Regions from separate parts of the Homo sapiens genome. Here region 2 is linked to region 1. Evidence: fine-mapped expression QTL. Tissue or cell type: whole blood. Region 1 holds a variant in brackets; the other region holds the start of a gene. All regions are shown on one strand. Distances are from middle to middle.

Evidence for each region. PIP is the estimated chance that this variant, and not a neighbour inherited with it, causes the effect.
Region 2: it holds the start of PYGB, and the variant in region 1 is fine-mapped to the expression of PYGB in whole blood (TOPMed, PIP above 0.99).

The regions. Positions count from the first base shown.
Region 1 is chr20:25,715,904-25,724,009 of GRCh38, reverse strand. The region is part of intron 1 of LOC107985400 (a long non-coding RNA gene); the gene reads right to left. Among named protein-coding and RNA genes, the nearest start is that of ZNF337, 23 kb to the right of the region's middle. RefSeq lists enhancers at 4,042-4,557, 4,558-5,073. The variant C/T (reference allele first, on the strand shown) is at 4,570.
Region 2 is chr20:25,244,878-25,252,983 of GRCh38, reverse strand. It overlaps PYGB (glycogen phosphorylase B), which reads right to left and starts at 4,899. Exons shown (of 20, transcript NM_002862.4): 1 at 4,563-4,899. The coding sequence starts at 4,805. RefSeq lists silencers at 4,256-4,635, 4,946-5,135, 5,146-5,335, 5,516-5,595, 5,614-5,867 and an enhancer at 4,786-4,865.

The DNA of each region.
Region 1 (8,106 bases):
AAATCCCAGGATCAGGAGGATTCACAGCCAAATTACACCAAACATACAAAAAAAATTAATACCTATTCTTTTGAAACTATTCTAAAACATAGATAAGCAGGGAATCCTCAACAAAACACTAAAAAATGGAATCCAACAGCACATCAAAAAGATACCACACCACGATCAGGTGTAATTTATCCCAAGGGCGGAAGGATGGTTTAACATATGGAAATCAGTAAGTGTGATATATCACATCAACAGAATTAGAAACAAAAACCATATGATCATCTCAACAGATGCAGAAAAGGCATCCAATAAAACTCAGCATCACTTCATGATAAAAATCCTCAACAAACTAGGCATAGAAGAAATATACTTCAACATAATAAAGATTATATACAACAAACCCACAGCCAACATCATACTTTTTAAAAAATAGAAACCCTTCAGATCCTCCTGTGTATCATTCATCTATAAGAATGTGGTAGTATTTCTGCTTATTCCAAGAGGGCAGCTGATTAATATCAAACTCTTTTTCTTTCTCCCACTAGAATCAGAAGACCTTTCAAAACAGGATTTTCTTGTTCACTTGTTTTACCTACATCCTTAGCAACTAGCACAGGGCCCTAAATAGAGAAATTTGAAAATACATTTAATGATGCTAGTAGAAATATTTCTGAGGACATGTTTTGTGCATAAGGAAATGAGTAAGAAGACATTTTCCCTACTTTTTGCAAAGACCTCAATCCTAAGGCTAAAATATGCATTACCTAATCTCATAATTCTATCTCGTTTTTTAAAATTTTAGATTCAGGGGTACCTGTGCAGGTTTTTTATATGGGTATATTTTCTGATGCTGAGGTTTGGGCTTCTAATGATCTGTTGCCCAAGTAGCAAACATAGTACCCAATAAGTAATCTCCCAACCCTTGTTCCCCATCCTTCCTCCCCTAATTTAGAGTGTCCCATGTCTACTCTTCCCATCTTTGTGTCCATGTGTACCCAACAACATCATATCTAATATGGGAAAGTTGAAAGCATTTCCTGTAAGAACTAGAACAATACAAGGATGCCGACTTTCACTATTCTTATTCAACACAGTACTGGAATTTCTTGCCAGAGCAATCAGGCAGAAGAAAGAAATAAAATGCATCCAAATTGGAAAAGAGGAAGTCAAGTTACCCCTGTTTGCTGATGATATAATATTATTCCTGAAGAACCCTAAAGATGCTGCCCAAAATTCTTAAATTTGACAAAGGAAGCAGTGAGCGTCAGGATACAAAATTAATGTACAAATATCAGTAGTGTTTATATACACAAATAATGAGCCAGCCAAAGGCCAAATCAAGAAAACAATCCCATTTACAATAGCTACAAAAAAATACCGAGGAATATCTTTGACCTAGAAGCTGAAAGACTTCTAGAAGGAGAACTACAAAACACTGATGAAAAAAATCCTAGATGACATAAACAAATGAAAAACCCCCACGCTTATAAATTAGAATATGCAATATCATTAAAATGACCATACTGTTCAAGGCAAACTACAGATTCAACACAATCCCTATCAAATTACCAATGTTATTTTTCACAGAATTAGAAAAAAAAATCCTAAAATTAATATGGAACCAAAAAAAGGGCCTGAACAGCCAAAGCAATTCTAAGGAAGAAGAACAAAGCTGGAGGCATCACATTACCTGTTTTCAAATTATACTACAAAACTATAGAAACCAAAACAGCATTGTACTGGCATAACATAGACACATAGATCAATGGAGCAGAATAGACAACTCAGAAATAAAGCCCCATACCTACAACCAACTTATCTTTTAAAAAGTCAACAAAAATATATTCTGGGGAAATGACACCCTATAAATAAGTGGTGCCAGTAAAATTGGATAAACACATATGGGATAATAAAACTGGACCCATACCTCTCAAAATATACAAAAATAAACTCAATATGGATCAAAGACCAAAGTGTAAGACCTGAAACCACAGAAATCCTAGAAGAAAACTTAGGAAAAACCCTTCCAGACATTGGTCTAGGCAAAGAATTAATGACCAAGTCCTCAAAAGCAAATGCAATAAAAATAAACAGACGAGATAATTTAACTAAAAAGTTTCTGCACAGCAAAAGAAATAATTAATAAAGTAAACAGACAACCTATAAAGTGGGAAAATATATTTGCAAACTATGCATCCAACAAAGCGCTTACATCCAGAATCTACAAGGAACTCTAACAACAAAACAACAAGAAACAACCCCATTAAAAAGCGGGCAAAGGATACAAACAGACATTTTTCAAAAGAGTACCTACAAGCAGTCAACAAACATGAAAAATGCTCAATATTTCTAATCATCAGAGAAATAAAAATTAAAATAGTAAAATACAATCTTATACCAGTCAGAATGGCTATTACTAAAAAGTCAAAAAAAACAAAACAGATGTTGATGAGGATGTGAAGAAAAGGTAATGCTTATATACTGTTGGTAGAAATGTAAATAAGTACAACCTCTACGGAAAACAATAAGGAGATTTCTCAAAGAACTAATAACAGAACTACCATTTGATCCAATTCCATTACTGGGTATATACCCAAAGGAAAAGAAATCAGTATATCAAAAATATACCTGCACTCATGTTTATCACAGACCTATTCACAATTGCAAAAAAAGAAATAAACATACATGTCCATCAGCGGAGAACTGGATATAGAAAATACTACTCAGCCATAAAATCATGTCTTTTGCAGCAACACTGATGGTATTGAAGCCCATTATCTTAAGTGAAAAACTCAGAAACAGAAAGTCAAATACTGCATGCCATCACTTGTAAATGAGAGCTAAACAATTGATACATATGGACATACAGAGTGAAATAATACGCATTGGAGACTACAAAAGATAGGAGGGTGGGAGAGAGGTGATGGTTGAAAATTTACCTATTGGGTACAGTGATCACTATTAAGGTGACGGGTACACTAAAAGCCCAGTCTACCCAACAGTATGCAATATATGCATGTAAGAAATCTGCACTTGTACCTACTAAAGAAATGAAAAATAAAAATTAAAAAGTATAACAAGTACAACTATGTAAGGTACATAATCTTTTATGGTGATTGGAGGCTCCCATTGAAAAAAAAACATAAGCCAGGATTCTGCTCCAAGACAGCCGAATAGGAACAGCTCCCGTCTGCAGCTCCCAGCATGATCAATGCAGAAGATGGCAATTTCTGCATTTCCAACTGAGGTACCTGGTTCATCTTACTGGGACTGGTTGGACAGTGGATGCAGCCCATGGAGGGTGAGCCAAAGCAGGGTGGTGCATCACCTTACCTGGGAAGTGCAAGGGGTCAGGGGATTTCCCTTTCCCAGCCAAGGGAAGCCAAGTCAGACTGAACCTAGAAAATCCGGACACCCTCACACAAATACTGTGCTTTACCTACAGTCTTAGCAAATGGCACACCCAGAGATTATATCTCGCACCTGGCTTGGCAGGACCCACACCCACAGAGCCTTGCTCACTGCTACAGCAGCAGTCTGAGATCGACCTGTGAGGCAGCAGTCTGGCAGTGGGAGAGGTGTCCGCCATTGCTCAGGCGTGAGTAGGTAAACAAAGTGGCCTGGGAAGCTTGAACGGGGCAGAGCCCACCGCAGCTCTGCAAGGCCTGCTGCCTCTGTAGACCCCACCTCTGGGGGTGGGGAATAGCTAAACAAAAGACAGCAGAAACTTCTGCAGACTTAAATATCCCTGTCTGACAGCTCTGAAGAGAGAAGTGGTTCTCCCAGCATGGTGTTTGAGCTCTGAGAATGGATAGACTGCCTCCTCAAGTGGGTCCCTGACACGCATGTAGCCAAACTGGGAGACACCTCCCAGTAGGGGCCAACTGACACATCATACAGGAGGGTGCCCCTCTGGGATGAAGCTTCCAGAGGAAGGATCAGGCAGCAACATTTGCTGTTCTGCAATATTTGCTGTGCTGCAGCCTCTCCTAGTGATATCCAGGCAAAGAGGGTCTGGAGTGGACCTCCAGCAAACTCCAACAGACCTGCAGCTGAGGGACCTGACTCTTAGAAGGAAAACTGACAAACAGAAAGGAATAGCATCAACATCAACAAAAGGGACATCCACAGCAAAACCCCATCTGTTGGTCACCAGCATCAAAGACCAAAGGTAGATAAAACAAGAAAAATGGGTCTTTGGGATGGATGGAGCCAAGATGACTGAACAGGAACAGCTCTGGTCTACAGCTCCCAACGTGAGCGATGCAGAAGATGGGTGATTTCTGCATTTCCATCTGAGGTACCGGGTTCATCTCACTAGGGAGTGCCAGAGAGTGGGCACAGGACAATGGGTGCAGTGCACCGTGCACGAGCTGAAGCAGGGCGAGGCATTGCCTCACTTGGGAAGCGCAAAGGGTCAAGGAGTTCCCTTTCCTAGTCAAAGAAAGGGGTGACAGATGGCATCTGGAAAATTGGGTCACTCCCACCCTAATGCTGCACTTTTCGGACAGGCTTAAAAAACGGCACAACAGAAGATTATATCCCACACCTGGCTTGGAGGGTCCTATGCCCATGGAGTCT[C/T]GCTGATTGCTAGCACAGCAGTCTGAGATCAAACTGCAAGGCGACAGTGAGGCTGGGGGAGGAGCGCCTGCCATTGCCCAGGCTTGCTTAGGCAAACAAAGCAGCCAGGAAACTCGAACTGGGTGGAGCCCACCACAGCTCAAGGAGGCCTGCCTGCCTCTGTAGGCTCCACCTCTGGGGGCAGGGCACAGACAAACAAAAAGACAGCAGGAACCTCTGCAGACTTAAATGTCCCTGTCTGACAGCTTTGAAGAGAGCAGTGGTTCTCCCAGCACACAGCTGGAGATCTGAGAACGGGCAGACTGACTCCTCAAGTGGGTCCCTGAACCCTGACCCCCGAGCAGCCTAACTGGGAGACACCCCCAGTAGGGGCAGACTGACACCTCACACGGCCGGGTACTCCTCTGAGACAAAACTTCCAGAGGAAAGATCAGACAGCAGCATTCACGGTTCACGAAAATCTGCTATTCTGCAGCCACCGCTGCTGGTACCCAGGCAAACAAGGTCTGGAGTGGACTTCTAGCAAACTCCAACAGACCTGCAGCTGAGGGTCCTGTCTGTCAGAAGGAAAACTAACAAACAGAAAGGACATCCACATCAAAAACCCATCTGTACATCACCATCATCAAAGACCAAAAGCAGATAAAACCACAAAGATGGGGAAAAAACAGAGCAGAAAAATTGGAAAAACTGGAAACTCTAAAAAGCAGAGCACCTCTCCTCCTCCAAAGGAATGCAGTTCCTCACCAGCAATGAAACAAAGCTGGACGGAGAATGACTTTGATGAGTTGAGAGAAGAAAGCTTCAGATGACAAAACTACTCTGAGCTACAGGAGGAAATTCAAACCAAAGGCAAAGAAGTTAAAAACTTTGAAAAAAATTAAGACGAATGTATAACTAGAATAACCAATACAGAGAAGTGCTTAAAGGAGCTGAAGATGCTGAAAGCCAAGGCTCAAGAACTACGTGAAGAATGCAGAAGCCTCAGGAGCCGATGCAATCAAATGGAAGAAAGGGTATCAGTGATGGAAGATGAAATGAATGAAATGAAGCGAGAAGGGAAGTTTAGAGAAAAAACAATAAAAAGAAATGAATAAAGCCTCCAAGAAATATGGGACTATGTGAAAAGACCAAATCTACATCTGACTGGTGTACCTGAAAGTGATGGGGAGAATGGAACCAAGTTGGAAAACGCTCTGCAGGATATTATCCAGGAGAACTTACCCAATCTAGCAAGGCAAGCCAGCATTCAGATTCAGGAAATACAGAGAATACCACAAAGATACTCCTCGAGAAGAGCAACTCCAAGACACATAATTGTCAGGTTCACCAAAGTTGAAATGAAGGAAAAAATGTTAAGGGAAGCCAGAGAGAAAGGTCGGGATACCCACAAAGGGAAGCCCATGAGACTAACTGCTGATCCCTTCACAGAAACTCAACAAGCCAGAAGACAGTGAGGGCCAACATTCAACATTCTTAAAGAAAAGAATTTTCAACCCAGAATTTCATATCCAGCCAAACTAAGCTTCATAAGTGAAGGAGAAATAAAATACTTTACAGAAAAGCAAATGTTGAGAGATTTTGTCACCACCAGGCCTGCCCTAAAAGAGCTCCTGAAGGAAGCACTAAACATGGAAAGGAACAACCGGTAACAGCCACTGCAAAATCATGCCAAATTGTAAAGACCATCAAGGCTAGGAAGAAACTGCATTAACTAACGAGCAAAATAACCAGCTAACATCATAATGACAGGATCAAATTCACACAAAGCAATATTAACTTTAAATGTAAATGGAATAAATGCTCCAAATAAAAGACACAGACTGGCAAATTGGATAAAGAGTCAAGACCCATCAGTGTGCTGTATTCATGAAACCCATCTCACGTGCAGAGACACAGATAGGCTCAAAACAAAAGGATGGAGGAAGATCTACCAAGCAAATGGAAAACAAAAAAAGGCAGGGTTGCAATCCTAGTCTCTGATAAAACAGACTTTAAACCAACAAAGAACAAAAGAGACAAAGAAGGCCATTGCATAGTGGTAAAGGGATCAAATCAACAAGAAGAGCTAACTATCCTAAATATATATGCACCCAATACAGGAGCACCCAGATTCATAAAGCAAGTCCTGAGTGACCTACAAAGAGACTTAGACTCCCACACAATAATAATGGGAGACTTTAACACCCCACTGTCAACATTAGACAGATCAACGAGACAGAAAGTTAAGAAGGATACCCAGGAATTGAACTCAGCTCTGCACCAAGCAGACCTAATGGACATCTACAGAACTCTCCACCCCAAATCAACAAAATACACATTTCTTTCAGCACCACACCACACCTATTCCAAAATTGACCACATACTGGGAAGTAAAGCTCTCCTCAGCAAATGTAAAAGAACAGAAATTATAACAAACTGTCTCTCAGACCACAGTGCAATCAAACTAGAACTCACGATTAAGAAACCCACTCAAAACCACTCAACTACATGGAAACTGAACAACCTGCTCCTGAATTACTACTGGGTACATAACAAAATGAAGGCAGAAATAAAGATGTTCTTTGAAACCAACGAGAACAAAGACACAACATACCAGAATCTCTGGGACACATTCAAAGCAGTGTGTAGAGGGAAATTTATAGCACTAAATACCCACAAGAGAAAGCAGGAAAGATCCAAAATTGACACCCTAACATCACAATTAAAAGAACTAGAAAAGCAAGAGCAAACACATTCAAAAGCTAGCAGAAGGCAAGAAATAACTAAAATCAGAGCAGAACTGCAGGAAATAGAGACACAAACAACCCTTCAAAAAATTAATGAATCCAGGAGCTGGTTTTTCGAAAGGATCAACAAAATTGATAGACCACTAGCAAGACTAATAAAGAAGAAAAGAGAGAAGAATCAAATAGACGCAATAAAAAACGATAAAGGGGATATCACCACTGATCCCACAGAAATACAAACTACCATCAGAGAACATTACAAACACCTCTATGAAAATAAACTAGAAAATCTAGAAGAAATGGATATATTCCTCGACACATACACCCTCCGAAGACTAAACCAGGAAGAAATTCAATCTCTGAATAGACCAATAACAGGAGCTGAAATTGTGGCAACAATCAATAGCTTACCAACCTAACAGAGTCCAGGACCAGATGGATTCACAGCTGAATTCTACCAGAGGTACAAGGAGGAACTGGTACCATTCCTTCTGAAACTATTCCAATCAATAGAAAAAGAGGGAATCCTCCCTAACTCATTTTATGAGGCCAGGATCATCCTGATACCAAAGCCGGGCAGAGACACAACCAAAAAAGAGAATTTTAGACCAATATCCTTGATGAACATTGATGCAAAAATCCTCAATAAAATACTGGCAAACCGAACCCAGCAGCACATTAAAAAGCTTATCCACCATGATCAAGTGGGCTTCATCCCTGGGATGCAAGGTTGGTTCAATATACGCAAATCAATAAATGTAATCCAGCATATAAACAGAACCAAAGACAAAAACCACATGATTATCTC
Region 2 (8,106 bases), 470 kb after region 1:
GATGTGGTCACCAAAAGGTGACTTTTGGCAAGCCCCTCAGGGCAGAGGCTGGCTGCCAGGGGAACCAGCTCTAATTAGAGGGTTGGAAGTTTCAGGCCCACCCCTCCCGCCAGCCCCAACCTCCAGTGAAGGGAGAGGGGCTAAAGGCTGAGCTCATCACCAATGGCCAATAATCACACTAGGTAACTGCGGCCTCCATAAAATCCCCAACTGAAGGGGATGGAAGAGCTTCCTTCCAGTTCAGTGAATCCTGGAGGTGCTGGGACAGTGGCACCTGCAGAGGGAATGGAAGCCCCTGCACCCTCCCTCAGACCTGCCCTCTGCATATCTTCTATCTGGCTGTTCCTGGGTTGTATTCCTTGTAAGTAATTGGTAAACGCAAGTGAAGTGTTTCCCTGAGTTTCATGAGCCATTCTGGCAAATCATCAAACCTGAGGAGGCTGTCGGTCAGAGGTCAGAAGGGAGGTCCTGATGTGCAACTGACATCTGGGGTGGAGAAGTCTTGTGGGACTGAGCCTTTAGCCTGTGGGATCCGAGGCTACATCTAGGTAGACAGCATCAGAACGGAACTGAATTGTAAGATGCTCAGTCAGTGTGGGAAACACCACCCCCCGACCCCCCCAGAGGGACATCCACGTTACTATCTAGGCACAACAGCCAAGTTGACACATAAAACCAGCCACCACAGCCTGCAAGGGCAGAGGCCAGGCTGTCTTCTGCAGAAAATGAAGGCACACACTGTAGGCTTCTCCATCTGCTAAAATGACAGCTGAGGCCTACCTTCCAAGTGGCTAGCTGTCAGCAACACAAAACAGCACCCACCATCAGCTACTGGTCAGAGAAAATGACTTTGAGCGATCTGCTGTCAGGGAAGCCTGCCCAGGAGATGCAAGCTCAACTTCACACATAAAAGTGGAAATACATCAGAAAAATTGGGAGTGTTAGGATTCCGGAGGCTGGTACCACAACTGACTAATTAAAACAAATCCCAGAAGTGGGGATCACAGAGCAGAAGGGTCTGCAAAACACTTCTCTAGATCATCTTCTTTAACTCCTGGGTCCAGCCAAACCAAAAGATTAATCGTATTTCATTGTGTTTATCTCATTAGGAATATTTAGGACAGCAGTGTGGGCCCCAAGGTAGAGCTGCTTTTCCTTAATCTGTGTTGTAGTCATGCCAGGAGCTTATGGGAAGAGTCTCAAAAACTGATTGTTACATCCACTGCAGGGGTGCTGCAGGTCAGTGGCTCAGCACATCGACAACACAGCTTCACAAAGGCCCACAGAATAAACCGTGCAACTGTCCTTTCAGGATGTTATAGAAGGGATCCCGTGACTCTCATAACTGGGCATGGGCTGCTTTCACTGCCAGGATCCTGGTCTGTGTTTTGTGTCCTGACCCTCACTGTCCCACCCCAACCCTCACTCTGAGGCCTTCTAATGTGAACCTTTTGTGCTGTATCTAGCATAAGCATCCTCAAATTCTCTCTGGATAGAGATGGAATGTCAATTCAATATGAAATAGAAACATTTTAACTCTAACATTTCAGAATGGCAACAGACTTCGGAAACATCACCAGCTTGATTCCCCTCATTTTAAAGATGAGAAAACTGAGGCCAATAATGGCAAAGAAATCCGCCCAAGCCCACAGTTGCACAGACCGAATGGAAAGGCCAGGATGAAAAGGAGCGTGGAATCACGCACACCCTTTCTTCTCCATGCAGCGCAATCCCAGGCTCTGCAGCTTCAGGTTGGACTCTCCTTGCCACCTTGCCACCACTTCAGAGAATCCATTAAATGTCTTCATGACCAACCGCCACCTCTTGCCAAGCACAAAGCTCTCCATGTTAGCCAGATGTTTTGACGTGCTGATTTGCCAAGCATGGCAAAGCTTGACAAATCTTCCTCTGAACACCCCAACTTCTACTCTTTCGCTATGTACCACAAATAAAGTGCTAAGAGTTATGAAACAATAGGTTCAGTATAATGTTATTTTATGTATTAAAAACAAGTTTCTGCCAATACGGAAAAAACAATGTAGAACACAAAATATTTACAGCACAAAGTGGGCGATAGAAGTGGGTTACAGGATTACAGTTAATTTTTTTCCTTCTGGCTTATCTATATTTTCTAATTTTTCCTCCAGTAATAATTTTTCCTTCAGGACTTGCATAATTTAAAAAAAGACAAAAATAACAATAAAAGCGTTCTATTTAGGAGCTCTAGAGTGTCACATTACCACAGTCTGCAGTGTGCCGGTGAATGTCTGAGGTCATTTCTGGCTGAGGGGGAGGCACAGCAGTTATTTTCTTGGGAGCACACCTCCTCTCATTGGCTCTGGTGGGACTGGTTGCTGGTCCATCACCAGCAAGCATGTAACTTTTCCAAAGAAAGGATTGCAAGCTTATTTTCATCATGAATTAGCGAAAGAAGCAGTTAAATCCCAATTTTCCATGTCCTTCCTATTCAGAATAGGCACACAGCTTATTTACACACTGTGAGATCTAAAAGTTTACAACTTTACGACTTACAGACTGTGCGGTTTAAGAGAAAGGTTTCCACCCAGAGCCACCACACGTAGACAATCAAAAGAGATCTCACGGAGGATCAAAAAACCTGTTTTGTTGCAGGGACTATCTTGTTCATGAAGGTCATTTCCGTAATCCCTGAGCCCATCGCTGGCCTCTCCAGGATGTGATTATACATAAATACTCCAATGGGCACCCTAAGGTGTAGAGCTGAGTCCTGGTCCAGCTCCAAGGAAATGCCCTTGAATGTGAAGGCAGAGCTATGTCCTTGCCATCCGCCACTTAGACAATAAAAATGATGTTGCGGGTCGGGTGCGTTGGCTCACGCCTGTAACTCCTGCACTTTGGGAGGCCGAGGCGGGCGGATCACGAGGTCAGGAGTTTGAGACCAGCCTGGCCAACATGGTGAAACCCCGTCTCTACTAAAGATACAAAAAATTAGCCGGGCGTGGTGGTAGGCGCCTGTAATCCCAGCTACTTGGGAGGCTAAGGCAGGAGAATTGCTTGAACCCGGGAGGCGGAGGTTGCACTGAGCCGAGATCGCGCCACTGCACTCTAGCTTCACGCTACAGGGCAAGACTCAGAATTAAAAAAAAAAAAAAAATGGTGCTGTGCATCAGAACTCTCCCAACAGCAGGGAATTCTGGGGGAGCCACTGCTTCTTGGCTGCTTTTCCTGGCAAAGTCATCCCAAGCCCTTGTTATAACCTGTTTTGGCCATTCGTTGCCACTTCTATGTTTTGCATACCAAATATGAAGAGCCCCAGTTGGTATTCTAACAAATCTGTCCCTTTTACCATCTCCATTTTAGAAAAAAGAATGTCCCAGAATAAGTTTGGAAAAGCAGTCAATCTCTTAGCAATTACCGTATTAAACATATCTTAATGCCCTACAAAAATATTCTAAAATACCATCCATAAAGCAAGTGCTCACTGCCTAGATGTACACTGCAAGTAAAATCTTTGCCAAGTGGCTTCAGGTCTGGAAGTGTGTCTTTTCCTCACCAGTTCTCCCTCTACGTTAGTGTAGTAGAAAGACAATTCTCCATGGTCAAGAGTTTAAAAGCAAACGACAACAACAAAAAACTGGCAACAGGGGGCTGTGCAAGACTACCATGTACCTATCAAACTGAAAACTACCATCCTATCCATTGACCTGCAAAGCTGTTTATCAGTGAAAAAGTTACAAATGTTTACGAATGAAACAGAAAATCTAAAAAACTGTATGTGCATTATACTTTTTAAAAATGTGTATGTATATTTAGGAATACCAAAAACACAGCAAGAACACAGGCCCATAGTAAACATGGTTAAGAGTAACGGGGACAATCAGTGACTTTGTTTCACTACTCAAACAAATTTTTGCAAGATATAAAAAGTAACAATTAGTAAGATGATCTCTGTCAACTTCAACCCAAGCAAATTTCTCCAAGGGAGGTGTGGGAACCTCTAAGACAGAGCCTTCTTCGAGGGCTCCATCTCCATCTCTGAGCTTCGTACCCCTCCCTGCGTGAAGCAGGCATCTTCAGTGATTTTCTTCTAAGCAGCGTACACAAAAAAAAGTCTCACAATTCCCTGCAGATTACCGAGCTCACCCCATTCCAACCCACAAGGCTGCCCAGGCCTGGTTCCAGTCCCATTTTCTCCCACAGGCTGCTGCAGGAAAACAAAGAGTGGCTGGAGGCAGGGGCGGGGAGCACCGGCTCTGCAGCCAGCGCGGAAGCGCACGGCCAGAAAGAGACCGGGAACGTCCGCCAGGCTCCCGGGCTCAGCATCATCTGCGGGGGACGGCGGACCCCGCCAGGCGCGGGCTCCCAGTGGGGCGGACCCGTGGCCGCGGCCCTGCGCAGGGGACGCCCGGGCCCCGCCGACTGCGGCTTCCAGGCGACTCCCCAGTCGGCTGTGCCTGGCCGCCGGCCGGCTAGGGGCGCAGGTAACGCCCGACGGGCCGCCCCGCAGAGACCCCCGCTGGCGCGGCTCCGGGACCGGCGCCCTCTCAGCGGGCACGGGCGCACAGGGCGGGGCAGCGCCTCACCTTGGGGTCGCGCTCGTAGTAGTGCTGCTGCGTGCGGATCCAGCGGCCCACGAGGTGGTCGCGCACCGTGTGCGCCAGCGCGAAGAAGTAGTCGCGGGGCGTGGCCACATTGCGGTCCTTGACCAGCGTGAAGTGCAAGTGCCGGTTGAAGCTCTTCCGCACCTCGGCCACGTCGCCTAGCCCCGCCAGGCCGCGCACGCTGATCTGCTTCCGCTTCTCGCTGTCCGTCAGCGGCTTCGCCATCGCGCCGGCGGAGGCGGAGGAAAAGAGATGGAGGAGGAAAGCGGCGGCACACGCGAACGCCGGGATGGTGCAGCTGCTCTGGCGCCGCTGCTCTGGCGCCCGGCACTGCGGCTCTGCGGGCGGGATGGACCGCGCCTGCGCGCCGCGCCGGGGCGGGGCCTCGGGGGGCGGGGCGGGGCCTCGGGAGGGCGGGGCGGGCGTCCAGGCTCATAGCTGAGATCTCTGGTGTAGTCCGAGGCGGCAGCGACCTGTCCACGCCACCTGAGCGTGGTGTTTGCCCCCTCGTTGGGCAAGCCCGGCAGAAAGTGGGAGCGACTGGAGGGGGCAAGGGACCCGGGGCCTCGGAGCGTGCCGTCGTGGCCGCTCCTGCCAGCCCGGGGACGGTGCGGGAAGGGGGCCCTGCCCTCCGGCCCTCGGGTTCCTGGGACCGGCCCTCCCGCCCTGCACCGGGTCACCAGGTGCCCCGCGGGAGCGCGCTGGGCTCGGGCTGTGGCCGAGACCTGGTACACGTTCGGGGAAACTGATTACAGCTTGAAAGGCATCCACCAACGCCTGCTGGGCCCGGTCTTCTCTGTCCGGGGCAGGGCGGCTCTGAAAATACCAGCTATTTGCTTGCCACTCCAGGCCGATGACAGACGTGGAGAAAACCAGCTGCCAGCGAGCTGGAGACGCCCGTTCCCGAGGGCGCGAGGCAGCCACAGCCAAATGCCACCACGACCCCGCCTCGGAGGGACCGCAGCCCCCTAGCCCTCGGAGAAACCCTGTTCCCGAAACCACCTGGCAGACGCTGTCCGCTTTGAGATTACAGCAGGGAGAAGGAAACATGCCCGTCTGGCCGGGGAGCTCAGCCACTAACCGAGACTTAGCCTCTGTCATCCCAATCCAGGCTGCAGCTCCAGATAGGGGGCGTCTGCACACAGCTTCCCACACTTGGCCCCGCGGAACACAGTCCTGCTGGCCTCAGCCTGTGGGAACCCTGCTTCATGTAAAGGTCACCTAAACTCTGCCTTCCCTCAACCCCTTCAAACTCTGCCTTTCCCTTCGTTCTTGGGAGGCGCTCCCTCATTGCAGTGGGTCAGTACACCCGATTTTGTGGACCACAGGTTTGCTCCTGGTGGTCTTGGGCTGAAGGGGCTGCAAAGGTTACTGAATTTCGTGGAGGTAAAAATTGCCCGCAGGAAATGTCATGAAAGTCCAGGTGCAGTAGGTTTCCTGGTGTGATGCTTCAAAGTTATCTTCTTACCTGGAGCCCCTTCCAGCTGCAGACTTCAGAGGTCGGAGGTTAATCAATCTGGAATGACCCCACAGCCCACCCAGCTCCAGCTCGGGATTCACTCCTGCACTATGTCCTAGGGATTCTGGAGCCAACAAGATCGAACTTCGGGCACAGATGGCAGGGCTGTGGGGTCGAGCTTGGCTGCAAGCTCCGAACACTGATGCAATCTCTCTGAGGGTGATCTGGCAATTCAGAAGTCATAAAAATGATAGTGCCCTATGACCACTTCTACCACTCTGGGGAATTGAGTTCAAGGAAAGCTTAAGAAGACAAAAAGCAAGTTATGCAAATATGTTATCTGCTGTGGTGTGGTAAAGTTTAATCCCCCAGCTGTGGTGCACACCTGGCAAAGAATGGAGGCGCTGACACTTATTGATCATTACTTGCAGTGTACACGTATTAACTCCTGATCCCTGCAAATAGCCTGCTATTACCCCCGCTTGACAATGGAGAAGGTGAGCCACAGAGAAGTTAACTCTTCCCTAAGCCCACACAGCTAATAAGGGAAACAGCCAAGGTTCACCCCAGCCAAGCCCTGCTCCACTGCACAAGCCCAGAAAAATGTATCTGTGCTCAAAGTTAATATCATAAACCATTGTGCTGCTAAAAGGAATGACTGTTTTAATAGCTAGCTAGGAAGGTGTGATTGATGACACAATACTGATAAATGAAACACAAAAATAAGGATGTAATGCAGAAATGACAGTAATGATTTGAATATTACTTTCATTTAGTCAATTTAAATTTAAATTAAATAACCACATGTGGCTAGGGACTACTGTGTTAGAAACACAGGTGTATATCCAAACCTAAACACTGGTTATTTCTGAATGGAAGAATTATCAGGGGGGTTATCTTATTTTCTCCATACATTTTGTATTTCCTGTTTTTTCCACAATATTTCTTTTGTAAGTGGAGTAAGTTTTAGTAAGAAAAACTAGAGGCCACAGACTTCACTAATGGATGCTGATTTAAGGCCTATATATTCTCTTACTGGATTGACTTTTAATTCTTTGTTACTCTGGTTAAATAAATTTTAAGTCCTTTCTTTCATAGCTACACTTTATTAAATTTTCCATGATCCTGACAAAAATTCTTTGACCAAACTCTAGTCAGGCTTCTGAGCCTTGTAGGGCCATCATACACTTCCCTGTGACATCTGTTTTAGCAATCCCTGCTTTGTCAATTTAGCAGGATTCCCTGCCCCTGATGTCTGATCCCCCTTGGTGACATCTGATCAGGCTCCCCATGCTCCACCATCCCCCATGCTGTCCAATCACCCTGGCCTGCCTTCAACAGGAATCCTATGAGGTGGTTTAGACACAATCACCTGGACCCCTGAAGTGTCCTCTTAGTAACTGTCCATCCACTGACCCCTCCCCCAGTCCTTGGCTATAAATGCCCACTTGCCCATGCTGTTTTCGGAGTTGAGCCCAATCTCTCTCCCCTGCTGCAAGATCCCGTTGCAGTGGTCCCTGTACCTATCATGATGGTTGTGAATAAAGTCTGGTACCATGCTTTAACAAATGCTATTGATTATTTTTTTTCTTTAACAGTTATCTTACCCAGATGTCATTTCCTCTTCCTGGGAGCTGCCATGGTCCTTCCCCTCTCCTGCAGCACTTAGTCCAATACTGAATCTTCATGATGTGACTCTTCATAATGCGCATGGTTGACGCAGGAAGGAGCCCTCTCACCATCATGTCTCCTCACCTCCTCTGGCCGCTAATATTGCTGAAGTGGCTAAATGAGTCCCAGTATTAATTATCTCAGCCATTTTCAGGTAATTTATTTATTTATTTATTATTAATGTTTTTGAGATGGAGTCTTGCTCTGTCACCCAGGCTGGAGTGCAGTGGTGCAATCTCCGCTCACTGCAACCTCCGCCTCCTGGGTTCAAGCAATTCTCCTGCCTCAGCCTCCCATGTAGCTGGGATTATAGGCACTCACTACCATGCCCAGCTAATTTTTGTATTTTTAGTGGAGACAGGATTTCACCATGTTTCTGGGCTGGTCTTTAACTCC